Linked DNA regions of Homo sapiens: all the other regions are linked to region 3. A link means that fine-mapping ties the variant in region 3 to the plasma level of a protein whose gene starts in the linked region. Region 3 holds a variant in brackets. A gene starts in each other region. All regions are shown on their reverse strands. Region 1 holds the start of PTPRC (protein tyrosine phosphatase receptor type C). Region 2 holds the start of CD58 (CD58 molecule). Region 3 has its middle 13 kb from the start of ASGR1. Region 4 holds the start of CD28 (CD28 molecule). Region 5 holds the start of CD48 (CD48 molecule). Region 6 holds the start of THBS4 (thrombospondin 4). Region 7 holds the start of CD244 (CD244 molecule).

The links. PIP is the chance, under the fine-mapping model, that this variant and not a neighbour inherited with it causes the effect. The UK Biobank Pharma Proteomics Project read protein levels with antibody pairs (Olink). The fine-mapping took linkage between variants from a reference panel, not from the people measured, so its PIPs are less certain.
Region 1: it holds the start of PTPRC, and the variant in region 3 is fine-mapped to the plasma level of the PTPRC protein (UK Biobank, PIP above 0.99).
Region 2: CD58 starts here. The variant in region 3 is fine-mapped to the plasma level of the CD58 protein (UK Biobank, PIP above 0.99).
Region 4: it holds the start of CD28, and the variant in region 3 is fine-mapped to the plasma level of the CD28 protein (UK Biobank, PIP above 0.99).
Region 5: CD48 starts here. The variant in region 3 is fine-mapped to the plasma level of the CD48 protein (UK Biobank, PIP above 0.99).
Region 6: it holds the start of THBS4, and the variant in region 3 is fine-mapped to the plasma level of the THBS4 protein (UK Biobank, PIP above 0.99).
Region 7: CD244 starts here. The variant in region 3 is fine-mapped to the plasma level of the CD244 protein (UK Biobank, PIP above 0.99).

Annotation. Positions count from the first base shown.
Region 1 is chr1:198,636,958-198,641,372 of GRCh38, reverse strand. PTPRC (protein tyrosine phosphatase receptor type C) reads right to left here and starts at 2,333. Exons shown (of 33, transcript NM_002838.5): 1 at 2,236-2,333; 2 at 2,032-2,147. The coding sequence starts at 2,104.
Region 2 is chr1:116,568,137-116,572,499 of GRCh38, reverse strand. It overlaps CD58 (CD58 molecule), which reads left to right and starts at 1,474. Exons shown (of 6, transcript NM_001779.3): 1 at 1,474-1,597. The coding sequence starts at 1,528. LOC124904385 (a long non-coding RNA gene) reads right to left here and starts at 1,525. Exons shown (of 2, transcript XR_007066497.1): 1 at 1,447-1,525. RefSeq lists silencers at 1,273-1,732, 1,803-1,872 and an enhancer at 2,343-2,402.
Region 3 is chr17:7,164,234-7,168,648 of GRCh38, reverse strand. No RefSeq gene overlaps it. Among named protein-coding and RNA genes, the nearest start is that of ASGR1, 13 kb to the left of the region's middle. The variant C/T (reference allele first, on the strand shown) is at 2,556.
Region 4 is chr2:203,704,622-203,709,019 of GRCh38, reverse strand. It overlaps CD28 (CD28 molecule), which reads right to left and starts at 2,381. Exons shown (of 4, transcript NM_006139.4): 1 at 2,272-2,381. The coding sequence starts at 2,323. RefSeq lists an enhancer at 2,352-2,501.
Region 5 is chr1:160,709,583-160,713,997 of GRCh38, reverse strand. CD48 (CD48 molecule) reads left to right here and starts at 2,176. Exons shown (of 4, transcript NM_001778.4): 1 at 2,176-2,316. The coding sequence starts at 2,235. RefSeq lists enhancers at 1,148-1,207, 1,748-1,927.
Region 6 is chr5:80,032,735-80,037,149 of GRCh38, reverse strand. It overlaps THBS4 (thrombospondin 4), which reads right to left and starts at 1,802. Exons shown (of 22, transcript NM_003248.6): 1 at 1,525-1,802. The coding sequence starts at 1,612. It also overlaps the pseudogene TRMT112P2.
Region 7 is chr1:160,861,095-160,865,509 of GRCh38, reverse strand. CD244 (CD244 molecule) reads left to right here and starts at 2,623. Exons shown (of 9, transcript NM_016382.4): 1 at 2,623-2,893. The coding sequence starts at 2,833. RefSeq lists an enhancer at 2,758-2,807.

The sequences.
Region 1 (4,415 bases), not on the chromosome of region 3:
TAAACTAATTTTAACACGTTAAAATGAAACATAGAATCCAACTCATTTGTTGCTAAAAAAGAAAAATAAATAATTTAAAGCATTAAGAATTTTCCAAATTATACATTAAATCACAAAATGTTTCTTGCAACTTGAAAGGATTATAAACAATATTTGCAGATACAAATGATTATATCTGTATATGTTTTTCCACAAATAAGCATATATCTCAGGGAGTCTACAAATGTCTTTTAGAAAAATGTTTGCTCTCAATATTTATGTGAGCAACTGAAGATAAAGTTGAGTTTTCAAAATAAATTTATGTATATCCATTTATTTGCTATGGTATAAATCATTCAGCAAAGTTGATATAAAGGTTTCTAGACCCCATCATATTATTTCAATTATAAATTCAAAGATGTGTCTTATGGTTAAAAAAACATCCTGTAATAGAATGAGTTGAATTTTTATTCACAAAGGAAATATTTCACACTCTGATTTAAGCATATAATAGGATATTTGGTCTATTCAGGAGGTTGGGAAGTTTGCCTGGAATAAAAAGCAATGGAGCTAGACCTGAAGAAAATAATAGAAGTTAAATGAATATGAAGAGAAGAAAAATATTCTGGCTTACAAAATGTCTCAGTATTTCTTTATGCTCATTTAAAAATGCTTTTCGACATTTCCTGAGTGGGAATTTTAAATGAAAATCTGTTCTGATTTGTGATAATATACATATATCACTTCATTGAGATTATTATTCTTTATAATTTACTTTTTATTATCATAAGCTTTAAAGGGATGGTAACTTGATAAACATTTTCTGTACTAAGACAAATGCTGCAAATATATAGATTTTTAAAAAATTCACCTTTGCAATAAAAAGCAAAACAGCCACAACAACAACAACAAAAATCTTATGTTGTTTTTCTTTCCTCTTTCTTTCCTCTCCAAATAGAAATTGTCAATGTAACATGCTCAAGAGGTAGCTACTTCCCTGACTTTCAGAGGAAAGAAGAACGGTAAAAGTCAAAAAAAGACTTCAAAGTGAATTGTAATAAGCAAGTTGTTTTAAAATACTTTTTATACTTTTTGGAATTTCTACAAAAATTTTATTTTCAATGTCCTTTTAGATACTACATCATAAAGAGAAATATTAAATATTAATTATTAGTTACATTCTATAATCTATTGAAATGTACTCATGATTCATATTGACGCCGCTCAAGAACTATCCATTGAATAGACCATAAATGTGCAAAGATTTCAAACTTTAATAGGCACTGGAAGTCCAACTAGTTGCATTTTCCTACTGAATACAGCATTTGCATGATTTTTAAGAGTTTAAATATTTCTATCTCATCAAGGCTGTAATATTTACCCACCACCCAGGAAGGGCGGTGGCTCCACAAGAATTTCTAAAGCAAAAATGTATTAAAACTATTAACAAGAAACTAAAAACTTGATTTAAAATACATTCTGTGATAAAAATTGCAGAAAGTTAATATTTTACTAAATATCTCAATATATTTTTGAACTATTATATACCCAAGTATTCAATAAAATATGTCAATTAAATTCAAAATTTGAGGAAGCAAACTTCAGGTCTGAAAAGAGGGAGTGGCTTACATACAACCAAAGCTGTTTTATGACTTTTTAAAAGATCAAATTTGTTAAAAGAATAAAAACTCACTTATTTTATCATTAAAAAATTCTCAGGCTTTTATAAATGTGTGTTATTGTCACTTTGGAAGTTAAGTAATAATGTTGCTTTTGTAATATCTTTGAACAGTTGTAAATAAAGATACAGATAGACATTGCTTTCCTTTTAAAATTGTATTTTTTGTCCCGAAACATTTATGTCTTTGTAAACAGAAACAATGTATTCTGTCACACAACTAGCTATGTCTCCCTGAGACAACAATCTTGATGGTTTACAGCAGGCTTCTCACTTCCAGTTACCAACACATTTAAATTATTTTTATGTCTATTTCAAACATTCCTCCAAAAGAGAAAAAATAATTTAAAAAATATTAATATCCTTGTACTTACCTGTCACAAATACTTCTGTGTCCAGAAAGGCAAAGCCAAATGCCAAGAGTTTAAGCCACAAATACATGGTCATATCTGGAAGTCAGCCGTGTCCCTAAGAAACAGCATGCGTCCTTCTGAAAAGCAAAATAATTGTTATCTCTGTAGAAGTTTTTCTCTGTAAAAACGAATCAAAAATGTAAAAGTAAATAAATAAATGCATACTCTCCACTGTTGTCTTATCAGACGAGGAACAATTTCCTCCTCTGTTACCCTAAGAACAAACCACTTGCTAGCTGCATGAACTGCTAGGTGATGATGTCAGATTCGGTTTTACTAACTTCTCCAAAAATACTGTAAGGGTCCTCTTTGCAGGAAGTCAAAAAAGTTGTTCTAAGTCAGTAGAATGGCATTGCACTTCCTTAATTCAAGTAATTACACCAAGTTAGAAAGCCTTTTAAAAGATTTTCCCATCAAGGAAGATGTTTTTAAACCATCCAAATAATGCTCCTTTACAGTATCCATTACCATTTTTTTTAAATTAAATCCCCACAAAATAATCAATAATTTTCTTACTTAAGAGATGACAAACAGATTCAGCATAAGTATAACAAAATGGGTGTTGGCAAGATGACTTAGTAGAAAGTATCAATATTTGACTTACTGAGACGGCCAAATGAATGAAAAAACTACTAATCTGGTTATTTTTGGCAACCCAGTATCATTTACCATTAGGGCATTCAAAACTCAGCAATATGACAGTTTTAGCAGTAAAACCCATTTCTTATGCAAAAGCACTTTCAGACAGCTTAACAGTTTTGCCCCAAATCTTTCACAGATATCCTTGTGAAGCTAGGAGTGGAATCAGAATGTCATTTCTACTATAGTTACAGCAAACCCTGCTTCCAAAAACTAATGTTTCTGTGACTTAAGATGTTCTTGGCGCTACTGATGAGGGAAAGGACAGTGAAAACCAAGAGATACCTTTAACAAAAGTTAACTTGTTTCCTTTTTCTCAGCAATACTTTTTCAACTTTTTTAACAAATAAGACAATGAATTGTATTAACACAATGCTCTTCACCATTCTGATGTTCTTAGTTAAGTCCATCTATTAGGAAAATGCTTACTGGCAAAAAGTATAAATTCAACAATACAATTAGATGAATTGGTTTTATTAATACAATATCTATATGCCTTTAAAAATAAAAGTACACACATGTGCAACTCATTTATTTGAACAATAGATAATGCTTGGGGGACTTTTAGACAGACAGAGCCCTTGTGGTAATTCTGCAAACCCTAGTTTGGAAGCATTATTGTAGGGTTCTTATATTTAAGTAAATAAATCTTTTGATACTTACAAACTTTTTTGTTTTACTCTTACATTGGCTGCTAGGAACTACAGAGCCAAATTTCTATCACACTTTGTGCAAATGGAAATAACCCCACAGCTTAAACTCTAGGTAATAACCTTTTAATAAGATTGTAGTTAAGAATATTATTTTACTATGATTATTATTATATTTAACTTATGGAGCACTTACTATGTGCAGGAACTATGCTTTGCACTTTACATATATTGTATAATTTGTACGATACCCTTGAGCTAGATAATGTTATTATTCCCCATTTTATCTGTGATGTTCAGAGAGGTTAGTTGAGTTGCCTAAGATCTTGCAGCTAGGATGTAGACAAGCTATATTTAGAACCCAAGTCTCCAAGTTTAATTTTGCTTTCCTTACTCACCTTACTATTGCCCTTTATTTTTCTCATCCCTTTTACCAATCTTTTTGTACTATGTAAGTTTATAATACTCGAAAAGATAGACCTTTGAATCAGTGAAAATGAAATTATTCTCTTTTTGCAAATGTATTTTTAAATAAGATAACTGTGCAAGTAAGCACTAATTTTCATGTGGGTAGGCCTAATAAAACATCAGTGTCAGAACTCATGGATTTGAATACTCAGCTCCTCAGCCTATGTCTTAAAATACATTTGCAACAGAAAACTCTTTGGGGATTTGCTTTAAATATCTTTAAGCAAATACTTGTGTTCTGTGAGCTTGCTGTTATGGCAGAATATTTGGCAAAATTAGAGGCCAGGAGAAAAGTGTATATGATCTTTTAAAAGGAAGAAAAGTATATAAAATATACTCTATAACAATGTGAGTTTAGCAGCCTTAAACGGACATTTTAAAAGGGATTTGTGGCTTTAAAAAAATAGTAAGAAGTTAGGAGATTCAATTCCATTTCAGACAGGTGAGAAGACAGATTCTACCCAAGGAATCCAAGATAGATTAGCAACAAATGAGTTGCATTATATGTGTTAATCCAACACATATATAATGTTTTAACATATTCATTGTGTTAAAATTGAGTTTAGTGTCTATAGGAAATACTAGAAT
Region 2 (4,363 bases), not on the chromosome of region 3:
ATAGATGTTTGCTGTCATATCACTTCCCAGCTCAAAAACTTTCTGTGGCTCCCCAGTGTCTGAAGGTCTAACCCCATCCTGCCTTTCTAAGTTGGCCTGAGTTCCTACCAGCCCAGGGCAGAGAACACTTGATTTCCTCATATTTTATGTTACACACTGCCCCTGCCTTGTGTTCCCAGTATCTACAGATGGTAGGGAATATCTCGAGATAGCAGGTTTGTGGTAGAGGGCATTGGTCCCAGAAGTTTCACTGATAGAGATACCTTTTAAGATTTTATGGCTAACTTAAGAAATAATTCATGTCTCTTTGCAATATGGTTCAAGTGTCTTGAGTGACTTCGAGTCCCCACCTGGGGATAATGGAGGTGAAGCAGCAAGAAAGCACATTCCCACTCAGTTTCACAACCTGCACCATGTATGTGTTGGTGGTTATTTGGGCAGCAGGGAGTCCTGTTCATGGAAATGGATTCCTGCTCACATAATAACTAAGAGTTCTGTGAACTCCCTCAGCTGGGCAGGGGCAACTCTGGTGCTTCTGTCTGCAAGAAAGGGGACAGACAGGGAGGCTGATGTGAGGAGCTGGTTCTGGGAATAGGGTCATTTGTTCTGGGATATAGGGATGTGAGGGGAGGGCCAGCTCAATCCAGACTGATGAAGAGCGGGGAGAGTGATGAGTGCCTGCCTCAGCTTGGGCTGGATGGATGTGGGGAGGCTGGGCAGTGAGGGAGATGTGGATCTGACATCTCAGCCTGAGGGAAAGTCCCGGTTGAGATGGGGGAAGACAGAAAAAGAGGAATCTGAGAAGGGAGAAACCAAAGGCTGGAAATCCCAGCTCCGGGGATAAGGGAGTATGGGGACGGGGGAGGCCTGCCTCAGGTAACCCTACGCCTAACAGTTGTCTAAAATGCTCCCTTTCCTTGTCATGTTTGAGGAAAAGTGGTTCAAAGAGGCCGTCTGATGCGGGATCACACAGCGCTGAAGGGATGAGGGGCCCCGGGTGCTCCCGCCCGTCCTGCTGCCTCCTCCGGTGGCTCTCTGGGAGCCACAGCCCCGTCTAGCCACGGAGGGGCCTACAGCACGCCCCAAACGCTAAGGGGAAGCGCGGGAGGTGCGGTAGGAAGGCAGAGAAACCTGGTTTTTAAAACCAAGCCATTTTCAAGGAAAGAATTTCTTACTTTAAAACCTTGGTTTTTAAAACCAAGCCATTTTCAAGGAAAGAATTTCTTACTTAAAAATAGCGTATGGAATGGCGGCGGAATGACGGGAGGGACCGAGCTGGGGGACTGGACGGCGCCCCGGGGACACAGGAAGGAGGCGCGCAGAGCCGAGGCCAGAGGCGCGCCCGGGGAGTGGAAGCGCGAAGACAAACGCGGCGCCGCGGAGGGTGGGGGAGGAAGGGCCGGGGCGGGCCGCCGGCTGCCAGCCCAGGGCGGGGCGGAGCCCTACTTCTGGCCGACCGCGTAGGCGGTGCTTGAACTTAGGGCTGCTTGTGGCTGGGCACTCGCGCAGAGGCCGGCCCGACGAGCCATGGTTGCTGGGAGCGACGCGGGGCGGGCCCTGGGGGTCCTCAGCGTGGTCTGCCTGCTGCACTGCTTTGGTGAGTGAAGCCTGCCCCAGGGGCCCCGCGCCGGCCGGCGGGTACTGGGCAGCACCCAGGCTGGGTGGACGCGCCGGGCTCGAGGCGGTTGCCGATCAGAGACGGGTGGGGACGGGTCGCTGTGGGCCGGGAACAACTCAGCCGTGGGAGCCTTTTCAGGAAGAGAAAGTTGTTATTTCATCGCCAGTGTCCCTCATGGAGTCAGCAAGGAACTGTGTGGCCTTAGGGAAGGACGGGCTCCGGCCCGCTAGCCTCTCCTGCGGGGCCTGCGCCCCCCCGCCGGCCCCCTCCCGAGCTCCAGTGACCAAGTTCCTTCCTGGGCTTCCCCAGTAACGTCGCTGAGCGCTTCAGCGGACTGCAAAATTTTTCCCAGCCGTGAACGCGCCCGGGACGGGGAGCGGGCGCGGATGCCACCTGCTCGAGGGCGACGCCTGCTGCCCTCCCCGCGCGGTGCCGTCCCCGCCCGCGCGGCGTCCGCCGTATCAGCAGAGAGGACTTTTCAGAATCGCCCCACAGCGAGGAGCGGGTAGGCAACTAGGAAGCCCAGTCGGCAGCGGCCTCACGTTGGGATTCCTAAGTGGTGCGACTCCTGCTCCTTTTTCCTCCCCTCAAATCCTAAAAACTAGTATCAGAACTGGTTCCATCCTCTCCGTGTGTTGTCAGCCAAGTCGTCACAACAACCTCAGGAAATAGGTCCCCTTCTTCCCATTTTGCCTCCCCATCCTCCTTCACCCTCCACACATTGGCCCCAGTCAGGCCATAGCAAAACCCCGGGAGTACAGCAGTAACCTCCCAGCGAGTTCAACTGTACTTGAGGGGTTCTCATGGCTGGCTCCTGCACCCCACTGCCAGCCCTCCAGCCCGTCCGTCCGTTTGCTCAGCGTCCGCTGCCTGCCCGGGAGGTGCGCGTGTGCATCTATGGAAGACAGCCAAGGGGGAGGGGTTGAGATAGACTCAAAAGTACCCGCACGATCAGATAAGTCAGTGTTGTAAGAGGCCTGGGCTGGGCGTGGTGGCTTACACCTGTCATCCTAGCACTTTGGGAGGCTGAGGCAGGTGGATCACTTGAGGCCAGGAATCGGAGACCAGCAGGGCCAACACGGTGAAAGATCGGCTCTACAAAAAATACAAAAATTAGCTGAGCGTGGTGGCGCATACCTATAGTCCCAGCTACTCGGAAGGCTGAGGTGGGAGAATCACCTGAGTCCCGGAGGCAGAGGATGCAGTGAGCTGTGATTGTGCCACTGAACTCCAGCCTGGGTGACAGAATATGACCTGTCTCAAAAAAAAAAAAAAAAAAAAAAGGTGAGCTGTGAGGGTACAGAGGGAAGAAGAAGGCAGTCTCTTTTGTGAAATCAAGTGTCTTTTGTGAAGCAGTCTTCATGGGAGGGAGGATATTTGAGCCCAGCCTTCAAGGACTGGTGATGTGTGGACATGTGATAATGTGGGAAAAGATTGCTGAGTGTCCCCTTAGGGAGTCTGGATTCTCTGAGCTGAGAGAGCTTCTCCTGGGCCTTACAGGATCAGGACCATGCGCCTGGGAAGAAGAATCTGTTAGCAACAAAGAGGAAGGCTGCAGTCAGGAGGAATTGGAGGCAGGGAGGCCAGAAGGCCAGGGTGGACTACCATCACAGGGCCCAAATAGCTCTGGGGAGTTCATGTGCGGGTGGCTGGGGAAAAGAAGAGATACAAACAGGGATTAATTGAATGGATGGGGTAACTCTCCTCCAGGCAAGCTGGTCCCTCATTCCCTGGCACCTTGGGTCACTGCTGCCTGTACCTGTGTTCTCCCTTCCACTGCAAACCCAGTTTGCCCAAGCTCCACCTCCAACAGATTATTTGAACTGTCCCTTCCTGGTGATCTCTCTCACCTAATTCATGTATTCATTCAGAAGTCATTTGATTCAGCAAACATGTATTTATAAACTGCTCTGCATAGGCCTTAAACTAAAGACAAGACTGAATGGGTATATCCCCTTTTGGGGACCCAAGCCTGCCTCATTAGGGAAGCTGCAAATGCAGTGATTAACAGCATCAGCTCTGGGGTCAGATGCCTAGCTTTGGATCCTGGCCCCACTCCTCACCTGAGTCATGAACTTGTGTGAGTTCCCTAACTTCTCTTCACTTCAGTACCTTCACTTTTGAAGAGAGTACCACTCACATGAGGGAAAGGAGAATAATAAACCCACTTCATAGAATTACTGGGAACATCAGTCATGCAATAAATATTTACTGAGTGTCAATTATATGTTAAGCACTGCACAATGGACGGGGGATACAGCAAGCTATGCACAGTTCCCTGCCTTTGTGAAGCTCACCTTATAGTGAGGGAGAGAGACAGTAAGTAAATGAGTAAAAACATGGATGCTGGATGGTGATAAAGTAAACATTTACTAGTACAGAGATGAGTAAAGCAAAGAAAGGGGTGATGGAAGTCGTTAATACTTCAGTTTAGGGTTTTTTTTGAAATTTTAGAACAATTAAAATCTTTAGGACAGTTGCAAAATTAGTACAGTGAACATTTGCGTACTTTCTCCTTGAATCACCAGTTAACTGTCACATTAGTTTTCTTTGTTATTTTTGCCATCTGTTATTTTTGCCAAACCATTTGAGAGTTTCAGATCTCATGACACCTCACCTGTAATTCTTTATCATATGTCTCATAAGAACAAGAGCATTCTCCAACAAGTCACAGAATCATCATAATCTGGAAATGTGGCATTGATACAATACTGTTTCCTGGTAGAGAACCCAGAAGCCAGTCCT
Region 3 (4,415 bases):
TTTTATCAGATATTAGCCTATCAAATCAAATGCAGCATTAAAAAAGATAACATGGCCAGGTGTGGTGGCTCACGCCTGTAATCCCAGCACTTTGAGAGGCCGAGGTGGGAAGATAATGAGGTCAGGAGATTGAGACCATCCTGGCTAACATGGTGAAACCCCGTCTCTACTAAAAATACAAAAAATTAGCCGGGTGTGGTGGCGGGTGCCTGTAGTCCCAGCTACTCAGGAGGCTGAGGCAGGAGAATGGCGTGAACCCGGGAGGCAGAGCTTGCAGTGAGCCGAGATCGCGCCACTGCACTCCAGCCTGGGCGATAGAGCCAGACTCATCTCAAAAACAAAAAACAAGAACAAAAACAAAAAACAAAAAATAAAAAATAAAAAAGGTAACATGTTCAAGTAGTATAGATGCCAAGAATTCAAAGATGATTTAACATAAGAAAAATCTGTTAATATAATAGATTTAGAGAGTACAGAAAAATAGATTAAATGTGTACAAAAGAAAACAATTACACAATGCAGAAAAAACACTCAGCAAAAGTTCAGCTCTGATTTATGATGAAATCTTTCTGGACTCTAGCTGTTTCTACGTTGTTGCTCCATCGTTTCAATCTGTGGCTTCCATCACATGTTCCAAGATGTCTGCCCCTCCTGTTATGACACATTCCGGACAAGAGAAAGGGGAAAAGGGAAGGAGAATGGCGCATTCTCTCTCTGTCTATGCAGACACTTCCATCACTTCACTTTATATCTCTTTGATCAGAATTAGTCCCAGGGCCACAGATAGCTGCAAATGGGGCTGAGAAATGAACTTTATTCCATGAGGCCACATTCTTGCTAAAAACACAGGATTCTATTTTGTAGAGAAGGAGTCAGTAAACTTTGGCCCTCACCTGCTTCTGTAAATAAAGCTTTCTTTTTCTATTTTTTTTTTTTTTTCTGAGACGGAGTCTCTCTCCGTTGCCCAGGTTGAAGTGCAATGGCACAATCTCGGCTCACTGTAACCTCTACCTCTCAGGTTCAAGCAGTTCTCGTGCCTCAGCCTCCCAAGTAGCTGGGATTACAGACGTGCACCACTATGCCCGGCTAATGTTTTGTATTTTTTCTTTTTTTTTTTTTTTTAGTACAGACGGGGTTTCACCATGTTCGCCAGACTGTTCTCGAACTCCTGGCCTCAGGTGATCTGCCCATCTCAGCCTCCCAAAGTGTTGGGATTACAGGTGTGAGCCACCACACCTGGCCAGTTTTTTTTTTTTTTTTTTTTTTTTTTTTTTGCAACAAGGTCTGGCTCTGTCGCCCAGGCTGGAGTGCAGCGGCGTGATCTTGACTCACTGCAGCCTCTGGATCTTGACTCACTGCAGCCTCTGCCTTCCAGGCTCAAGTGATCCTCTTGCCTCAGCCTCCCAAGTAGCTGGGATTACAGGCGCAAGCCACCATACCCTGCTAATTTTTGTATTTTTTTGTAGAGACGGGGTTTCACCATGTTGCTCAGGCTGGTCTTGAACTCCTGTGCTCAAGTGATCTACCCGCCTTCGCCTCCAAAGTGCTGGGTTACAGGAATGAGCCACGGATCCCGGCCTGTAAATAAAGTTTTATCGGAACACAGCCATGCCTGTTTGTTTACATGTCATTTATGACCACAGCAACAGCAGAATTGAGTAGTTATGATAAAGACTGTATGACCTGGTAAGCCTAAAATACTTGCTATCTGGCCCTTTATAGGAGATGTTTCTGGACCTCTGGTGTAGCAAGAAGGGGATAATTGGTATTAGGGGTAATTAGAAGCCTCCGTTATAGTGCTATTATTGCTGTTCAGCATCATCCTGGGCATGGTAGCCAAACTGCACAAGACAGAAAAAGACATTAAAAGTTGTAAGAATTGGAAAGGAAGAGATAAAACAATATGCTCACCTATACAGAAAATCAACACCATCAACAAACAAACAAACAATTCGACCTAATAAGAGGCTTCGGCAGGTGTATTAGTCTATCACCACAATAACACATGAAGAACATACAAGAAGAAACTTAAATTCTTTCCAAATTAACATATACATTCAACGCAATAAAAATAAAATTTCAATTGATTTTCTTTTTGAGATGGATTCTCCCTCTGTCACCCAGGTGGGAGTACAATGGTGTAATCTCACCTCACTGCAACCTCCGCCTCCAGGTTCAAGCGATTCTCCTGCCTCAGCCTCTCAAGTAGCTGGGAGTACAGGTGCCCGCCACCACGTCCAGCTAATTTTTGTATTTTTAGTAGAGATGGGGTTTCACCGTGTTGGCCAGACTGGTCTTGAACTCCTGACCTCAAGTGATCCACCTGCCTCAAACTCCCAAAGTGCTGGGATTAGAGGAGTGAGCCACTGCGCCCGACCTCAATTGGATTTTTAAAAGCAATGCAACAACTTTAAAAAAAATATATGTGGCAAGATAAAAGTCAATATGGGAAAAAAAGGAGAAATTGGAGGAAGGGGGAACTAGCCTTATTAGACTTTAAAATATATTACAAAGCCATAGTAATAAAAATAGCACAGTAATGATACAAGAATAGA[C/T]GGATAAACCAATGTTATAGAATAAAGAGCCGAGAGACAGAACTGTGCCTACATGGGAACTTAATATACAATAAAGGTAACATCTCAAATTGGTAGAAGAAAGACATTATTGGGAAAACTGGCTCACTCTATGAAGATAAGTAAAACTGGATTCATACCTAACATCACAGGCAAAGGTGGATGTTGGATAGATTGAAGACCTAAACATATAACATAAAATTACAGAACTAGTAGGAAAAAAGAAAGAAAGAAAAATCTATACTACTAAGAGTATAGAAGGGTTTCTTCTTCTTCTTTTTTTTTTTTTTGAGACAGAGTCTTGCTCTGTCGTCAGGCTGGAGAGCAGTGGCGTGATCTTGGCTCACTGCAACCTCTGCCTCCCAGGTTCAAGCAATTCCCCTTCTTAGCCTCCTGAGTAGCTGGGAATACAGGCATGCGCCACCACGCCCAGCTAATTTTTCGAATTTTAGTAGAGACGGGGTTTCACCCTGTTGGCCAGGCTGGTCTCCATCTCCTGACCTCATGATCCACCCACCTTGGCCTCCCAAAGTGCTGGGATTACAGGTGTGAGCCATCGCGCCCGGCTGAAGAGCTTGTTAAATAAGGCCTCCGAAGCACATTCCAAAAAGCCAAAAAAAATTTGTGAAATTGCATGAAAATGATAAATTTCAGTTCAACAGCAATGTATCAGGTAGGCTCCCAGCAAGCAACAGATGGCACACCCAAAAATGGGTAAGTGCAAGATTTCATAATATAGGGACTCTCTGCAAAGGTGTGAACAGGCTTAGGGAAGCCACAAGATGGAGCAAGAACCTAGGCATCCCAGAGTGGGGAGCTGTTACCACCTCCAGGACCGCAGGGAGAGGGCCTCCCAACAGGAGCTGTGATACTCAGTTGCAGGGGGCAGCTAACCCACAGCCACTCTACAGGGAGGGGCCGGGGAGTTAATATCCTCACTTCCCTCTCTTCCTGGAAGAGGGCTGGAAGCCAGATGGCAAGGGAGCGATTTGATGCAGTCATACAGCTCAGCCTCCCAGGCCACAGAACAACATGGAGAAGGATAGAGTGTGGATCTGGAAGGACAAATGGAAGACATTCAACACAGAAGGAGACCAAGATGAAGAAATACACAGGAAACCTATTGGAAAAGTGGCATCAGGTATAAACAAGCAGTTCACAGATGAGGAAGCCTGGGGTTCTAATGTGCATATGAAGACATGTTTACAATCACTAGTGACTAACTAGAGAAATCAAACACGAGTGAGCCATCTGTTTACACCCATCCAATTGACAAACATTAAGAGGAAGTCAATTGCTGCCAAGGTTGTGGGAGAAGCTGCTGATGGGAGGATAAATTGGAATAGCCATTCTGCAAGATATTTACTGGAATTAAGAATACATAGTATCAGGACGGGCACGATGGCTCACGCCTGTAATCCCAGCACTTTGGGAGGCCGAGGCGGGTGAATCATGAGGTCAGGAGTTCGAGACCAGCCTGACCAACATGATGAAATCCTGTCTCTACTAAAAATACCAAAATAAGCCGGGCATGGTGGCGTGCGCCTGTAATCCCAGCTACTCAGGAGGCTGAGGCAGTAGAATCGCTTGAATTCGGGAGGTGGAGGTTGCAGTGAGCCGAGATCGAGCCATTGCACTCCAGCCTGGGCAACAGAGGGAGACTTTGTCTAAAAAAAAAAAAAAATGCATATTATCGGCCGGGCATGGTGGCTCATGCCTGTAATCCCAGCACTTTGGGAGGCCGAGGTGGGTGGATCACTTCAGGTCAAGAGTTCTAGACCAGCCTGGTCAACACAGTGAAACCCCGTCTCTACTAAAAATACAACAGTAACAACAAAAATT
Region 4 (4,398 bases), not on the chromosome of region 3:
CTCACAAGTAGCTGGGATTACAGGCGCATGCCACCACACCCTGCTAATTTTTTTGTATTTTTAGTAGAGATGGGATTTCACCATGTTAGCCCGACGGGTCTCCAACTCCTGACCTCAAGTGATCCACCCGCCTCAGCGTCCCACGATTACAGGCGTGAGCCACCACACCAGGCCAAATCATACATTTTTTATGTGGTCATTCTTTTCTTGCTCGTAAGTTTTCTTACTGGAAAAGACTGTAAAAGTGTCCCCTTCACTCCCATCTCTTTCCTTCTTCATTAGATAGCCACTCAGTATCAAATGCTAAAAGTTACTAGAAAAGTGAATTGGCATTTGAAAAGTAAATATATGTCAAAGTAGAAAACAAAGGCCCTATGTGTGTGAACTCTCCAACCACTTATCTAGCTAGTCCCCTTTTAATAAATGTTCTAAAGAAAACATACAAAGTTTTGAGTCTTACCAAAAACTCTTCAAAAGAGAGTGAATAAGTTGATGACAGATAGGTGTCCACAAAGCACATCAGAAAAGTATTTAGTGTACAATTACCAATTTTAAATAGTTTTCAGTCAGGGTAGGCTTCCCTTGACTGTCTAACAAATTAAGTAATTTTAAATATTCTTTAAGTTTGAGAGATCTCTTAAAAATAAGGTTTGACCTTTTTAAAATAAATGTTAAAGATTCTTGTAGAATATATTTGGTAGCTGTAAACGCTTGGTACCAGATCTCATTGCCAACTCATGTCTTTCATTATATCAACACGTTTTATAAATATACACAATTTGTGCTCACTGGTACGTCAGACCATAAAATAAACGGGTATATATGCAACTACTGTACCTCTGCAGATTGGGAAATTATACTCTTTGGGCTATGTACACTTAATGTTTAAGAATAACAACAAATAATGCAGTCTCTGTACTGCCAAAATAAGAAAGAAAATTGAGGATACTGGCTTTTCAATGTATCTTTCAGGGAAAAATAACTGTCCTTATTTAAGCATGACTGTTGACCCCTATCAGTCCAGTTTTTGAACCAAGCGGGGGCCTTTTTCTAACTCTGAGAACACGTTGAATGAGCATCTTACTCCAGCCCACCCAAGTAACAAATTCTTTCTGTTAGGAATTGTGCTTGTGATTTTCCGAAGTTAATTTAACCCTGGATTTACCTGAGTCCATGAAATTACAAATCACACCATGTTAGATGGAATAGCATAATAATCAACAACACCGGCACTGGAGTCAGACTAAGGTGGTTCAGACCCTGCCTCCTATAGCTGCCACCTGTACATCCTTGGGCAAATCCCTTAATGTGCCTACCCCTCAGTCTCTTCATCTGAAATGAAGTTAACTGTAATACCTACCTTCTAGTTACGAGAACTGTGTGCTGCTCAAAGTGCTAGATGTATTATCCTCCTCATCATCGTCATTGGGAACTTAAAGAATTTTAATCTAAGAAAATACATTTTGGCCGATTGTAAAAGAAAACTAATTTATTAATATTGGTGTTGTAGCAGCTTCTGTGGTGACTCCAGAATTCATGTTGGAACTCATTCAATTCAGGTAGATAGAGTAATTACAGTTCACATTTATCTTGAAGCCTGACTGAGCTAAGCCCTTCGCATGGATTATTTCATTTTACCTCACAATGACCTTGAGGTGAGGTTTATTATTATTCCCACTTTACAGTTAAGGAAACTGAGGTTTGGAGAGTTTAAATAATAGCTAAGCCTAAGCTTACCTAGTGAGAATTGGACCTGTGTTAGGAACATAGGCAACCTAAATTCAGAGCTTCCAGAGCCAATCTACTTACAGCAGCTTTCTTAAATTAAAAAAAAAAAGAAAGAAAGAAAGAAACGATACATAAATTAAAAATTATTGGCCGGGCATGGTAGCTCATGCCTGTAACCCTAGCACTTTGGGAGGCAGAGGCAGGTGGATTGCTTGAGCTCAGAAGTTTGAGACCAGCCTGGGCAACATAGTGAAACCCCATCTCAATTTAAAATAATAATAATAATAATAAATTCTTGGGACACTATCAACTAATAGCTAGAGAAACTAATAGCTTAGAAAATTTATTTCCAAGGGACTTTTGTTAAGATACTATATTGTAGTCTGAGAATCAATGATTTTCAAAATAACACATTGCCCTATTACAGCAAAACTACACTTCAAATGTTCAAATTTCACACATTGTTAGAAATTTAAAATAAACTAAGCCAATTGGAAGACCTCAAAAAATATTTACAGAAAGAAAGACATTAACATTGTTTACCTGTTACTTGAATTGAAGGGAATAAGTTGAGAGCCAAGAGCAGCCTGAGCATCTTTGTCCTGACGATGGGCTAGGGTTCCAGCCCCTCCTCCCCGAGGAACCCGAAGTGTGAGGGGAACTGAAAGACGCACCTGCCAAGGCCTGAGAGTCTCCGTCATCCACGGCCACCACCACCGCCACCATCCCCTTAGGGCACATGATCAAGGCACTCAAACCACAAGGCATCCTGACTGCAGCATTTCACACAGGATATAACGTTGTTTTGATGACTTTAGACTTTTACTTCTATTTTTAAAGACTTTTTTTTTGTCACTGAAAAATAGTCGGTCACTACATGATGGGCTTATGGGAATTATTCTTTATTGATGGATATCAAGAGTTGTGTAAAAGGGGTGCTTGAAATCCAGCAGAGATTAAAGGGGAGACAAAGTGTTCTTAAGAAGGAACAGGCCGGGTGCAGTGGCTCACGCCTGTAATGCCAGCAATTTGGGAGGCCAAAGTGGGTGGATCATTTGAGGCCAGGAGGTCAAGACGAGCCTGGCCAACATGGTGAAACCCCGTCTCCATTGAAAATACAAAAAATTAGCCAGGCATCATGGTGGGTACCTGTAATCCCAGCTACTAGGGAGGCTAAGGCAGGAGAATCGCTTGAACCCAGGAGGTGGAGGCTGCTATGAGCCGAGATCATGCCACTGCACTCCAGCCAGGGCAACAGAATGAGAAAAGAAAGACAGAAAGAAAGAGAGAAAGAAAAGAAAAGAAAAGAAAAGAAAAGAAGGAAAGAAGGAAGGAAGGGGAGAGAGAAAAAAGAAAGGAAGAAAGAAAGAGAGAGAAAGAGAAAGAAAGAAAGAAAGAAAAGAAAGAAAGAAAGAGAAAGAAAGAAAGAAAGAAAGAAAGAAAGAAAGAAAGAAAGAAAGAAAGAAAGAAAGATGGAAAGAAAGAAAGAGGGAGGGAGGGAAGGAAGGAAGGGGGAGAGAGAGAAAGAAAGAATAAAGTCTCTAGCAGAGGAGAGATTTTCATAGGATGGGGACAGGTTGTGTCAAAAAGATAATGGTAAGAATTCTACTGAGGAATTGGGAAACATCTGCATAAACGTTTAAAGGAGTTACAAATATTAGAAATGTAACATTTGTGTAGGACATAAGGTAGCCCTCTGGAGCATTTAGCACACAGTGCTTGATTTATGTCAAGCCTCCTCCAACTCACTTCTAGGAACTTTGCAAAACCCATTCTACGTGCAAGCAGCCAGCCAGCTGAGTATCTGGGGGAGGTTCCCTAAGCAAAGGGAAAGTCAAAACAACATTCTATGTTCTTAGTGGGACAGTAAGGCAACCAAAAGCCCCTTGGTGTCTCATGCTCTCTATGTCCCTCAAGGTTAAGTAATAGGGCACAAAAGGAGGCTCCGTGGCAGGATTTCTGAGATTCATAACCACCACCCGACTGCACCCTTCTTCAACTCCCAGGCCCTTTGCAGAGAGGGTTATTCCACCAGCACGGCCAACTGCTCTCTTCTTCCGGCACCTACGTCAGTATCTTGTACTCAATGACTTCTTCAAAACTTTTCCAGTAATTTTTTTCTTCTTTTTGATAATCTAAGCTTTGTGCAATTACTCTAGTTGGGGGTTTTGTGTATGTGGGTTGTTTTAAAAGATAACTTGTATTGCTTTTTATTCTGACTATAAAAGTAAGGCATATTTCATTGAGAATGTTTAGAAAAATTATAAGCATTAAAACAAGATTCATCCACATTCTTACCACCCTAATATAAACACTGCTAATATTCTGGTCCACTGCCTTCCACCTGTTGGTCTGTTAAGATTTTTACATGTTTAATATCATGTTTTACTTATAGTTTTCATCAGATATGTACTATTATTTGTTATATCTTGAACATTTTCCCATGTCATTTAAGTATCTTTATAAACATTATTTGTAATTGATGCATAATATTCCATTCTCTAATTATATCATAAATTGTTTAACAAACCCCTAGTGTTGTTACCTTTTTTTCTTCGCTATTTTAAAATGCTACAGTCAAACTCTTTGATGACCTAGCTGTAAGAGGAGGCAGGCTTCATGTCCCTCCCTCCTGATCTGATAAATGACAGATCAAAAGTATTTCCTGTC
Region 5 (4,415 bases), not on the chromosome of region 3:
TGCATAGTGGTCACTGTACTCCAGACTGGGTGACAGAGTGGGAGCCTGTGCCCCCCTCCCCCCAAAAAAGAGAATGTAACATTAATTTACAGGGTCTCTTTTAAAAATCTAATACAATGTTATCTTTTCTTGCTGAAGGAGCAGGGTCGTATCCTAAGGTTAAATCAATTTATAGGAAAAATATAACACACAGTTCCAAAGTGTAACAATTTGACCAAGAGGAATTTGATTCTGGTGCTGTTTCAAATTTTATTTGCAGGGTTCTTTCTTTTCACTTTTATGTTTTTTTCCCTTTTATTTTTAGTTGACATATAATAATTATACATATTTATGGGATACAGAGTAATATTTTGATACATGTATTCAATGTGTGATGATCAAATCAAAGCAATTAGGATACCTATCACCTCAAACATTGATCATTTCTTTGTGTTGGGAACATTCCAAATCCTCTCTTCTAGCTTTTTGAACATATACATTAAATTATTCTTAACTGTATTCACTCCATAGTGCTACAGGATGCTGGAACTTATTCCTCTTCTCTAGCTGTAACTTTGTATCTATTAACCAACTTCTTCCCATCCTCCACTTCCCTCTACCCTTCCCAGCCTCTGATAACCACAATTTTACTCTCTACTTCTATGAGCTCATTTTTTAAGCTTCCATATATGATTGGGAACGTGGTTTTTTATCTTTCTGTGCATGACTTATTTCACTTAACATAATGTCCTTCAGGTTTGAGGACTGAGAAGAGCAGACATTTTATTGTTCATCTCCATGTTGAGAATCAGAAATGTCCCCAATTAAAAAGTGATTACAAATATGTTATATCAGGAACTGTGGCTTGCCTGTGGGTCCTGGGTGGGCAAATAACTAATTTACATTCAATAGGAATGAGCTTGAAATTTCCTAGACATGATATGATTTGGCTGTGTTCCCTTCCAAATCTCATCTTGAATTGTAGTTCCCATAATCCCCACATATCATGGGAGCAACCCAGTAGGAAGTAAGTTAATCATACGAGCAGTTACCATCATGCTGTTCTCGTGATAGTGAGTTCTCACTAGATCTGATGGTTTCATAAGGAAGGGGCTTTCCCCATTGCTGCTCAGTGCTTCTCTTTCCTGCCACCGTGTGAAGAAGGACGTATTGGCTTCCCCTTGCACCATGATTGTAGGTTTCCTGAGGCTTCCCAAGCCATGCTGAACTAGAAGTCAATTTAACCACTTTCCTGGCCAGGCACAGGCCCATGCCTATAATCCCAGCACTTTGGGAGGCTGAGGCAGGTGGATCACTTGAGGTCAGGAGTTCAAGACCAGCCGGGCCAACATGGTGAAACCCTACTAAAAATACAAAAATTAGCTGGGCATGGTGGTGCTTGCCTGTAATCCCAGCTATGTAGGAGGCTGAGGCAGGAGAGTTGCTTGAACCTGTCAGGTGGAGGTTGCAGTGAGCTGAGATTGCACTGCTGCACTCCAGTCTGGGCTACAGAGTGAGACTGCATCTCAAAAAAAAAAAAAACCAAAACAAACAAAACAAAACAAAACCCCTCTCTTTCCTTTATAAATTACCCAGTCTGGGGTATGTCTTTATTAGCAGTGTGAGAACAGACTAATACAGACTACAAGGGTGGGAAATCCATTCTTTTGGGCCAAGTAATCTTACTTTTTTTCTGATGTTCAGTGGATAGGCTGATGTCAAACTTCAAATAGTGAATTATCATAAAGGAAGAAGAGCAGAGGGTGGTGCTGGGGGTAAGATATGCAGCACAAAGGCTACGTGGGTCTGATTTCCCAGACTTCAGGCTCTGAATGACACCTACCCAGGCTTGACTGGGAAGCTCCTATGTCTTAGCCCCTGAATTAATCAGAGGGATTCCTGCCTGGGAACGAAAAGCAGACATTCTCTATCAGGGTCCCTTATTCTTTTCTGAGTACTGGCCCCCCTGAGAGTACAGTAGAAGCTATGAATCTTCCCCCTACAAAAAAGCACTCATGTACCTTCAAACAAAATTGTTCTCAGTTTCCGTGATGCTCTTAGATAAAAAAATTTACAAGACCTCCGGTTTCTGGTTTCTGGGGCCCCACACAAGTGTGCTGGGTGGAGAGAAAATCTCAGTGGTTTTTTTTTTTTTCTCTCTAACCCTGTTTGGTAAGTTCCGTTTTTAGCCCCGGCCTTTTTCTAGCCAGGCTCTCAACTGTCTCCTGCGTTGCTGGGAAGTTCTGGAAGGAAGCATGTGCTCCAGAGGTTGGGATTCGTGTCTGGCTCTGGAATTGCTACTGCTGCCTCTGTCACTCCTGGTGACCAGCATTCAAGGTACTTTCCACCAACTGTGTATCTGTGATTGTGCACTGAAGGCATGGTCAGTTGGGAAAGGGGAGACGGGATGTAGTTCAACCCTAGAAGCCAGATCTGGTGTCTGGAAAGCAGGTATTTCCATTCCAATAGCATGGCCATGGCATGGTTGGGGAGCCTTTCTTAGCACTGATGAATGGAGCTTCATCTCCTTTCCCACGGGGATGTGATCAAAACAGGAACCTGGGGAGCAAGAGAAGTAGGCTCCTCATATTTTGTCCCGTGGTTGGTGGTCCATGAAGTTGTGGAAAAGTGTTTGTTTTTTCATTTTGAATAAGAAGAAGCTCTACACTGACAGCTGCTGCATTTTATGCTCAGACACACTGTACTCCCTTAGGCATTCTTTGAGACCTCTGTATATGTGAGGTGTTGCATCCTGAGCCAAGGTAAATGATATTGTCATTGACCCAAAGAAAAGATAGATCAAAATTATAGGAAGAAAAGCTTGGAAAGGATTGCTGTCTGGGGTCTCTGAATGAGGGTCTGAGAAGAGGCTGGAAGTGCTTCAGCATCAAAGGAACCTTAACACATCTGATTGCTAAGAGTTAAGGTCCATTCCTCTGCCACAGCCTGTTCGGTCCCCGGTGTGTGACCAAGGGCTGAGCTAACTTTCCTTCTCCTGTTAGAGCTGCCTCACCCTCTTTCTTCATCCAGTACCTCTCTTCTTATGCCAGCTGAGAAACAGCAGTGAAACCTTTGACTTTCTTGCTATTCCCCCAAGTAAATACTCAAGTCTTTTTAATTTAAAGGGCTTTAATGCTCACCACTCTGAGTAAAACAGTAAAAATCAACAAACATGTGGTAGTCACACTGTGGCATAAAATGATGATAGTTTGTAACTTTTGGGGAGATGAGGTAGAATGTGTGGAGGATCGGTCTCTCACATATTCTACCTCTCAGGTAGAGTCCTTTGGTTCATGACTGTGTGAGTCTACGGCTATATAGGTTCTGTGGGCCTGACTCAATGCATAGGACATTGGTATGACCTTGGGATTGGGGGCTGATGTGAAGTATTCATCTAACTATTGGGAAAAGCAGGGTTGCCAATGAGAATTGGAATATTTTAGGACTTTCTCTAGGCATACTGAAAACATCCTGACAGTTGACCTTTCTCTGACTTCTTTTCTAGGCTTCATCTTGGTCATTTATTCTTCTTTGAAACAATCAGACCACACCTGATTATGTTATCCTTTGAATGGATAATATTGGTTTTGATGAGGTTAGTAAACCTGGGTTATAACACCCGGGCTATAACCTGGGTTAGTAAAATACAAATTAAGCACTTACTGTGTGTCAGACATTGTGCTAGGCCTTTTGCATACTTTTTCATTTAACTTTCATTAGAAAATAGTGAGGTGGCTATTATTATCTACATTTTTCAGATGAGAATACTGTCTTGCAGAGAGATTAAGAAATTCTCCTAAGGGCACACAGGTCTAACTTCCAAACCATTCTATTATGATTATACCTTTCCTAGACTAAGGCGAGGGAATCTTGGTGAAGGTCAATGTGTCTAAATCTCTTAATTTTACTGTTTGCCTTAAAAGAGGCGTTTTCTCTTACCTCTGGGCTTATGTACATGCCTTCTTTCCACCTAGATTTCTCTCCCTCCTGCCCTCTCCCTGCCTCTCTTTTAGGCTTCTGTTTTTATGTGACTTCTTCTTGGACTGTCTGCCTGTGACTGTGTTCTGAAGGCATGGTTAGATGGGAACCTCAGGCTCCAGATTATGGTTTGTGAATTGCTTGGTGGATCATCTGTTTCCTTGAACTTTTTGAGGACAGAAACCATGTGCAGTGTTGTGCTGCTGAACTTAGCACAGGCCTGGAGTGTGGCATGTGCTCAATAAATAATTGTTACACAAATGAATGAACAACTTCAAAAAACTTCCTTTTGGACTACACATCCATATCTTCCTGAGAAGTGCAAGTAGTTCTCTCCTCTGCCGTAAGGGATGCTTCTGTGGAAAACTTTGAGAAGCACTCTTAGCTCTCTTCTTCCTTCTCTCCTCAGACTTGGGTTTCTCAGTTCTTTGGTTTCAAGGCAATGATTTAGGGCATGC
Region 6 (4,415 bases), not on the chromosome of region 3:
ATATAACACAAAAAAATTATACCTATAAATTTGAACTTGCCAAATATCATCACAATAAGACTTTTGAAGTGTTTAAAAGCTTCCTTTTTTACCTTCCTAGAAGTATGGGGCACGGACTACAGCATTTCAAATACTTCAACACAAACTAAAAGTTAGCAGTACTCTAACCCCTGAAACCACAGTTCTGGTTGTCTGGTCTGGAATGAAAATGAGTTATTTGGCGAAATGCAGTTTAAATGGGTGATTCCAGCAGCGAGAGGCAGGGAAGTTGAGAACGCCCTCATAGGCAGTCTTTGCTCTGGCTACAAGAGGAAAAACAACTTTTACTTCAAGTTGTGCGTCTCTTCCAGTTTTACTTCCACAGTCAGTAATAAATCAACCCAGGCACCAAGTTCAAACAGATGAAGCTCACGCCTGACCAGTTAGGGCCAGTTATAGCCCTAAGATCTTTCTTTGCTTAAATCATGTCTTCCTTTTGGTCTTTACAAAAAATTCTGTTTAACTGCTTTCTACCCAATGGCTATTTCACCCCATTTCACCAAGGGGTTTGAGGATTGTCCAAGTATCTTTTCACATTATTTGTTGAATTTTTACCGTTTCATAGAAAAAGATCAATTTCTTTCTTTTTTCTTTTTAAATTATAGATTCAGAGGGTACATGTGCAAGTTTGTTACATGGGTGCATTGCATAAGGTGGGATTTGAGCTTCTAGTGAACACATCACCCAGTGAACGTAGTACCCAATTGGTAGTTTTCCCAACCTTCCCCCCTACTTTTGGAGTCCCCAGTGTCTACTGTTTCCATCTTTATGTCCATATCTATCCACTGCTTAGCTCCCGCTTGTGAGAACATGGTATTTGCTTTTCTGTTCCTGCCTTAATCCACTTAGGAAAATGGCCTCCAGCTGCATCCATCTTGCTGCAAAGAACTGATTTCATTGAAAAAGACCAGTTTCTCAGCCCTTCCTATTTACCTCAGAAATTAAGACATCAAGCCAATCCTTGAAATAAACTTTCTTTTTGTCGTTCAAGCAAAGTCAGAGCAGAAAATGCAGGTGGCAGGGCAAGTAGAGTAATTCTGCGTCTTTCTCAGGGATGTCAAGAGCAGACTCTGGGCATACATCGCTCCGCCTGAGGAAGGATTTAGGGAGCAAGGCTGCCTGGAGGGAACCGGCACAGGGTGCAGGACCCGGAATTCACCCTACACCAGAGCCTAACATGTTAAGAGGTCTAGGACCGTGTAGCAAGTTTTGAAGGCAACCCCACCCCACATCTTTGCATAGTCTGAAACAATTTTGCATCCCCCAACTATTTAGGCAATTGTTCTCATCATTGGATAATCGAATTTCGGAAAATTCTAGACTAATCACTACCTCCAATCACAATATGCTTTGATTGGGCCCGGGAGGGACAGAGAGGGGCTGAGCAAGGCCACAGGAGCACAGGGCCGAGCAAGTCCCTCCACTCACTCAGCAGATGGGGCACCCGGTGCCCGGCGCTCCCAGGCCCGACCCGAACCCACTTACCCTGGGGGGTGGCCTGGGCGCCTGCCGCTAGCCACCGCTGCAGGACCAGGTGCAGCAGGAGGACGGCGGCTCCGCGCGGGGCCAGCATGTTGGCTCTTCCTGCTCCCCGCGAGGCCGGGGGCGACGGCGGCGTTGGCCCCGCCTGGGGGTCCCCGGGCCGTGCGTTGAACCTCGGTCGGCGCCCGGGCCGGCGCCGCAGGTGACCCGTGCTCGGCGTCCGGGCTGCCGTCGGGGGCGCGCTCGCGTCCCCGCCGTGCGGTGCTGGGGAGCTGGCTGCTGGGCTCCGCGGCAGCGGCCGGGCGCTTTATGGTGCGGCCGGGCGGGGGAGGGCCGGGGCGGGGGCGGCCCCCTTGGCGGGATCCCCTGTCCTGGGAAGAGCTGGGCAGCTGGAGCAGCGAGCCGGGGCCGCAGGGAGAAAGGCGCGGGTGTGAGGATGGGAAGGAGCCTGGACGGACCAGGTCCTGGGGTGGGTGTAGACACGGCCCCGACGCGCGAGGGTAGGGGCGAAGATGGGCAGTCGGGGCTGGAGAGAAAGGGGTGCTGAGCAGAGACCACAGGGGAGAAAGGAGCGGGAGGAAAGGGGCGAAAGGGAGGAAGAAAGTGACACTGACCCACTAGCTTTGGGCACCTTCAGTCCCCTACTCCTTGCGCTCCTTTTGTTTTCTAAAAAGAAGAATATCCTTTGGATCGGCTTTGAATGCCCACCTTGGGTTCCCTTGCGAATGAATCCTGAAGTTCTCCAGGAACGCTCTGCCTCCTAAAGTGGCCCAGAGAGCAGCGAGTTTCTTTTATTTCTTCAAGCTTTTCTTGAATACTTGAAAGGCTGAATTTTTTTCTCTATCATTTTGAGACACAGTGAAAGTTTGAAAGTTGTTGTGTTTTTAATGGAGATAAAACACATCTCAAGGAATCCATCCAGACAGAGCCATTTCTAGGCTGGTGAATCTGTGCTTTATGGATAATTCGTTTTCAGTATGGTTTCCAAACGCCCTGCTTGCCCACCTCTATTCCTCTGTCACCAAAGATTCCGTGTGACAGTTTAAAGGTACGGGAGTAGAACTTGAAAGAGATCGGAGGAACGCAAGTAATTCGTCCTTTTCCTGGGCAAAGCTCCCGGAATGATATGGATTAACTAGAGGAAAAAATATTTGATAAACAGTGGCAAAAATTTCTCCTCTGTAACAATCTCGACTAATGGAGAACATCCAGCAAAGTATTGCTATCTCTTTTATGTCTCAAATAATTCCATTTCAAAGTTTAATAAGCCACAAACTGGGAGATTAATGCACCATTTTATCCCCAAACTGTGCTAAAATAACCTGACACCAATTATCACTCAATTTACAGCTAGCGACTTGGAGATTTGTGAGCTATCTGCAGAGCTCTCTAATATGTAAGGTCCAATACAGGTCTATCCAGGGTTCCTTTAATGCCACATTACACTACAGTCACTCTTTGGAATGGGGCATATGTCTACACATGAGAGAACACTGAGAGACACAGAGGATGTGCATAAATATCGACTAATGAGATAAACTAGATTTGGGAACATTCAAATCTCCAGACCATGTTCCCAGGAGTGGCCTGGGTTTGAGAGGAATCTAGGCTCCCAAGCTACGCTTCAAGCAGAACAGCCTTGCCTTTCTATGTTTTTACAGTAGACTTCAGAGATTAAGATTTTCTGTGAAGACAATATTTGGATGCTCAAAATTTTGAAAGCCACTATTCAGTGGTTCTCAGCTGATTGGGTATACCAGAATCTCCTGGGGAATTTAAAAAACAGTGATTAGGTGCCTACAGGGAACAAATGAAACCAAACATCAAAAGCAGCAATATGCTATATCACACCATAGACTACTCTGATACATAAAATAGGGTTACTCCTTAAATGAGTCACCAAGCAAGCCTAGTGGATGCCTGTGAGAGTTCTTGTGTAGTGTGCCACCAGACACTGCCTGTTTCCTCTCAGATCTGGTGCTCACCTTCCACTGCATGCTTGTCAGCAGTCTAGATAAAATGGGAGACTAGAGAGCAATAAGAAGGTAGAAGGTAGACACTAGAGTATTTACTTCTCTGTGACCTGAATGGATGCATCTTCTTTGTGACTCTTGCAGGTGGGGTCCACCATGATTCTAGCTTCTGCCTTCTCACCATTTGCACCCTCCAGCCATGACATTGGAGGTCACTTACTGCAGTTGCTAAAATGTGGATTGCCTCACTCTTCTGTTTGACATCTCAGTTCTTCTACTATATATGTAATCATTTCCCTGTATTAAATTTCTTCTATTTAAAATACCTAGAGTATTTGCTAGGAATCTCCATGGTGAGGACAATGCACCACGTGCTGCTGGAGGTAGATGTGTTGGAGGGCACCCTGCAGTGCCCAGAGTCTGGACGTGTGTTCCCCATCAGCCGCAGGATCCCCAACATGCTGCTGAATGATGAGGAAACAGAGTTGATCATGCCAGGTGCCAGTTTTTCTTTTTATGACCGTGTGTATTTTTGTTGATGTTACCCTGTTTCTGAATTCTGCCATGTGTGTCCCCAACCCTTGACCCAATGACACACCAGACGCACGGTGTTCTTGAGCACAATAGTATTTTTTCTCATTAAAGATTCAAAACCAAAACAAACAAACAACAAAAAAACTAGGAATTTTCGATCCTAGCAAATTCCCAGCAAAATAGCTTGCACATCATGATGGTTAATGTTGAGTGTCAACTTGACTGGATTGAAGGATGTAAAGTATGGCTCCTGTGTGTGTCTGTGAGGGTGCTGCCAAAGGAGATTAACACCTGAGTCAGTGGACTGGGAAAGGCGGACCCACCCTCAATCTGGGTAGGCACCATCTAATCAGCTGCCAGCATGGCTAGAATAAAGCAGGCAGGAGA
Region 7 (4,415 bases), not on the chromosome of region 3:
CAGTCTATCTCAGGGGAAATAGAAATGTCTTCCTTAGAGAATTCATTCATTCCTTCAGCACTTGACAATCTACGAATCAACTCTGAAGAACCAGGCGCTGGGTGAGGCTTGGAAACACTAAGCTAAGGAGAGCATAGACTTTGTGTTGAAGAGCTCAGGGCTGGGGAGGTCAGTGTGTAGAACAAATGGCAGGTTGTTTTTTTTTTTTATTATTGTTGTTTGTTTGTTTGTTTTTGCTCTTGTTGCCCAAGCTGGAATGCAATGGCGTGATTTCGGCTCACTGCAACCTCCTTTTCCTGGGTTCAAATGATTCTCCTGCCTCAGCCTCCTAAGTAGCTGGGATTACAGGCATGCAACACCACACCTGGCTTATTTTTTGCATTTTTAGTAAAAACGGGGTTTCACCATGTTAGCCAGGTTGGTCTCAAACTCCTAACCTCAGGTAATCCACCCACCTAGGCCTCCCAAAGTGCTGGGATTACAGGTGTGAGTCACTGCGCCCAGCACCTTTTTTTTTTTTTTTTTTTTTGTGACAGAGTCTTGCTCTGTCTCCCAGGCTGGAGTGCAGAGGCACAATCTCAGCTCACTGCAACCTCTGCCTCCCAGGTTCAAAGGAGTCTCCTGCCTCAGCCTCCCGAGTAGCTGGGATTACAGGCACACACCACCACACCCGGCTAATTTTTGTATTTTTAGTAGAGATGAGGTTTCACCGTGTTGGCCAGGCTGATATCGAACCCCTGACCTCAAGTGATCCACCTGCCTTGGCCTCCCAAAGTGCTGGGATTATAGGCATGAGCCACTGCGATCAGCCTACAAATAGCAGATATTGTGTGATAGAGTTTGTCAGGGACCACAAGACAGACACACACTCAGTGGTACAGCTGCTCCGAGTTCTGTTTCCAGGGGATGATAGGTCATCCACATGCCTGGTGGGAAGGATGGAGCTGGTGTTGGGGTCAGGATTGGAGAGGCTGATTCCTAATTCACATTCATTAGTGGGTTCCAACAGCTGGATCTTGTTTTCCACCTGTCGTGTGAGGAAGTTTACCCTTCTTTGTTATATCATGTCTTGTGCACCACTTCTCAAGGTTAAGGACATGGCCAGATCAACTCTGAAGAAATTCCCCAGGGTTGAGGGCTGCCCCTTGGGAGCAGACAAAGGAGAGAAGAGATGATAACCATTAGACCCGCTGGAAAAAGCTATTCAGAGCTTAAAAAAATGAAAACAAAACCACAAAAACCTCATCTATGTCCAGTGTTTTTTGTGTGCATATTCTGGAGTATCATTTTTAATTTGATCCTGAAAACTGCCTTGTGAAGGTGGGGAGGATGTATTGTTGACCCTACAGGCTCAGACAGCAACAAGGCCAGAATCACATAGGTTGTAAGTTGCTGAATGGGAGCTGCAAGTCCAAGTCTTTGACTCTAAATCCAGCGCTCTGTCCAGAGCCCCGCTGCTGCCTCTGTTGGCAGCTGAAGCTGTCAGTCTGCTGCCCCCTGCCCAGTTCAGACAGGGTGGCTGGAAATGGACCAAAGGATGGAAAAAGAGAATAAGAGCGGACTTGAAGGGAACTGAAAGTATTTGTTAAGGGGAAAGCAGAAGGAAGAAAGAAAGAGGCATGAACCCTGGGGCCTGGCCTTGAAGCACAGTGTTCCAGGGGAGGGGGGATGCCGCTGTCCCCACCCCTCCATGGGGGCCTAAGCAGATCCAGAGCTGCCTGGCCTTCCTGGAGGGTGGCGTCCAAGCATGGATGGGAAGGCAGCAAAAATAGGCCCATGTCACTTCTGGGAGAAGACAAAAGAGGGAAGAGAGGACTACTATAGAAAAGTAGAAAAAGAGGAAGGGAGGGAATCTAGGCATACAGATCGGAAATGTGGAGCAAAACAAAATTTTTTTTTTTTTTTTTGAGACACAGTGTCGCTCTGTCACCTAGGCTGGAGTGCAGTGGCGTGATCTTGGCTTACCGCAACCTCCACCTCCTTTGCTCAAGTGATTCCCCTGCCTCAGCCTCCCAAGTAGCTTGGATTACAGGTGCACGCCACCCAGCCTGGCTAATTTCTCTATTTTTAGTAGAGGTGGGGATTCACCATATTGGCCAGGCTAGTCTCGATCTCCTGATCTCAAGTGATCTGCCTGCTTCAGTCTCCCAAAGTGTTGGGATTACAGGCGTGAGCCACTGTGCCCCGTGTGAAACAAATTCTTATGAAACAAATTTAATTTACATGTGCTTAAACTTTGGTGTCAACTTGCATGGAATCCCCAGGCTTGCTAGATTTTTCTAGTGCCTCCAGCCCTTAGGTCTCTTCCTATGTTCTCTCAGCTACTCCTCCTTTCCTTCAACACTGTTAGCCGCTTATCCAGGGCCCTACGTTTCAGCCCACTCCTCCTCCAGCCCCTCTCCACTCCACCTCCACAATGTCTGTTGGAATGGAACAGTTGGGGATACTGGCTGTTTGGCCCCCATGGGGGTCTCTCCATATAGGATTCAGAGAATTGGAAGACTTCTTGGGCTGAAGCAGAGAACGGGATGCAATTTTGAAACTGGCTTTGTGAGTCACTGTGAACTTCAAGCACCCTCCCACTTGAGGTAAGCTTCACCAGTTTGGCTTGTGGGAACTGTCAGACCAGCTCCAGGCGCTGGGGCTTTCTCAGTGGCCTTGTCAGCTCACAGCAGGCGTTAACAGCCTCTAATTGAGGAAACTGTGGCTGGACAGGTTGCAAGGCAGTTCTGCTCCCCATCGTCCTCTTGCTGACTGGGGACTGCTGAGCCCGTGCACGGCAGAGAGTCTGGTGGGGTGGAGGGGCTGGCCTGGCCCCTCTGTCCTGTGGAAATGCTGGGGCAAGTGGTCACCCTCATACTCCTCCTGCTCCTCAAGGTGTATCAGGGCAAAGGTAAGGAGGTCCTACCTGGCGTGGGGCGAGGGAGGGACTAGGAGCTGTGCCCCTCAGGGAGATCAGAGCCAGAGCCTCTGCTTGTGCCACATACACAGTCATCTGGAACTTGACTCCGAGCAGCTCCTGACAGCTCTGACAGTCTAAATCAGACAGGACAGGCTGGCAGTGCACTGGGAGGTCTGTGAGAGGGGTATCTGGCCCTGCCACCAGCAATCCAGGAAGTCTTGGGTGAGGAGATTCCTTCCCACTGGCTTCAATTTACCCTTCCGTGTAGTGGAGAGAGAAGCCTCCTTCCAGCCGCCTGTAAAGATGATGAAAATTGCATCCTCCAATTGTGGCATGAGAGAAGAGAAGCAGTCCCAAGGAAGTGGGTGGTTCTCGAGCTCAGAGACAGATGGATGGACCCCTGAGGCAGGAAAGCTGAGCCCAGGGAGGGGAGGGCGAGGCCAGCAGCCAGGAAGAAGCTGGAAGGCATGGTCCCTCATCTCCCCGGCTTCTTCAGCCATCCAGATGCCACAGGAGCCTGGAAATTATTAGGGACATGCAGGGTTGGGGCAGAAGAAGGAGACAATATGAGGAAGCTCCACAGCAAACCTAAAGCTGTCAGCCAGGCATGGAGCCATCTAACATTTACTCCTGGGGATCCCAGCTGAGGGCTGCTCCCCTCTTTCTCCAGTTCTGGGGTCCAGGATGCTCTGAAACCTGGATCCCGCATTTAATTTAATTGAATTAATTTATTTATTTCATTTTTAATTTTTATTTATTTATTTATTTTTTGAGACAGAGTCTCCTTCTGTCACCCAGGCTGGAGTGCAGTGGCGTGATCTTGGCTCACTACAAACTCTGCCTCCCGGGTTCAAGTGATTCTCATGCCTCAGCCTCCCGAGTAGGTGAAATTACAGACGTGCGCCACCATGCTTGGCTAATTTTTGTATTTTTAGTAGAGACCAGGTTTCACCATGTTGGCCAGGCTGGTCTTGAACTCCTGACCTCAGGTGATCTGCCCACCTTGGTCTCCCCCATCCAAAGTGCTGGGATTACAGGTGTGAGCCACCATGCCCAGCCAGGGTTCTGCATTTTAGATCAGTGACTCTGCAGGGGCTTCACGGAGGTGGAGAGCGTGGAATTAGAGGAGGGTACACTCTGGGCACAAAGAGGGGAAACTGAGGCATAGTGTTGTGTGGGTTCAGGGCCAGGTAGAAGCCCCATATGCAATAAAGTCCCATGCCCAGGTACTCAATTCAGTTACCGAGTCCCTGAGCATTCTTGTGTCCTTCAGGAAGACACAGTCAAGGCTCAGGTGGACTCAACATTTGTAAGGATGCAGGCAGCCTAGGGCAGAGCATGATGAGGAACAGGGAGCAGGGAGGGAGGAGTGGAGCCTGCAGCTCTTGTGGGTGGGTTGGGGGGCCTAGTGGCCCAGGATTCTAGGCAGGAGAGCTAGGTTGGAACCTGGTCTAAGGATCCTTGAATGCAGCTCAGACAGCCGAAGGAGGACTGATGGGATTGGTGCCTGGCT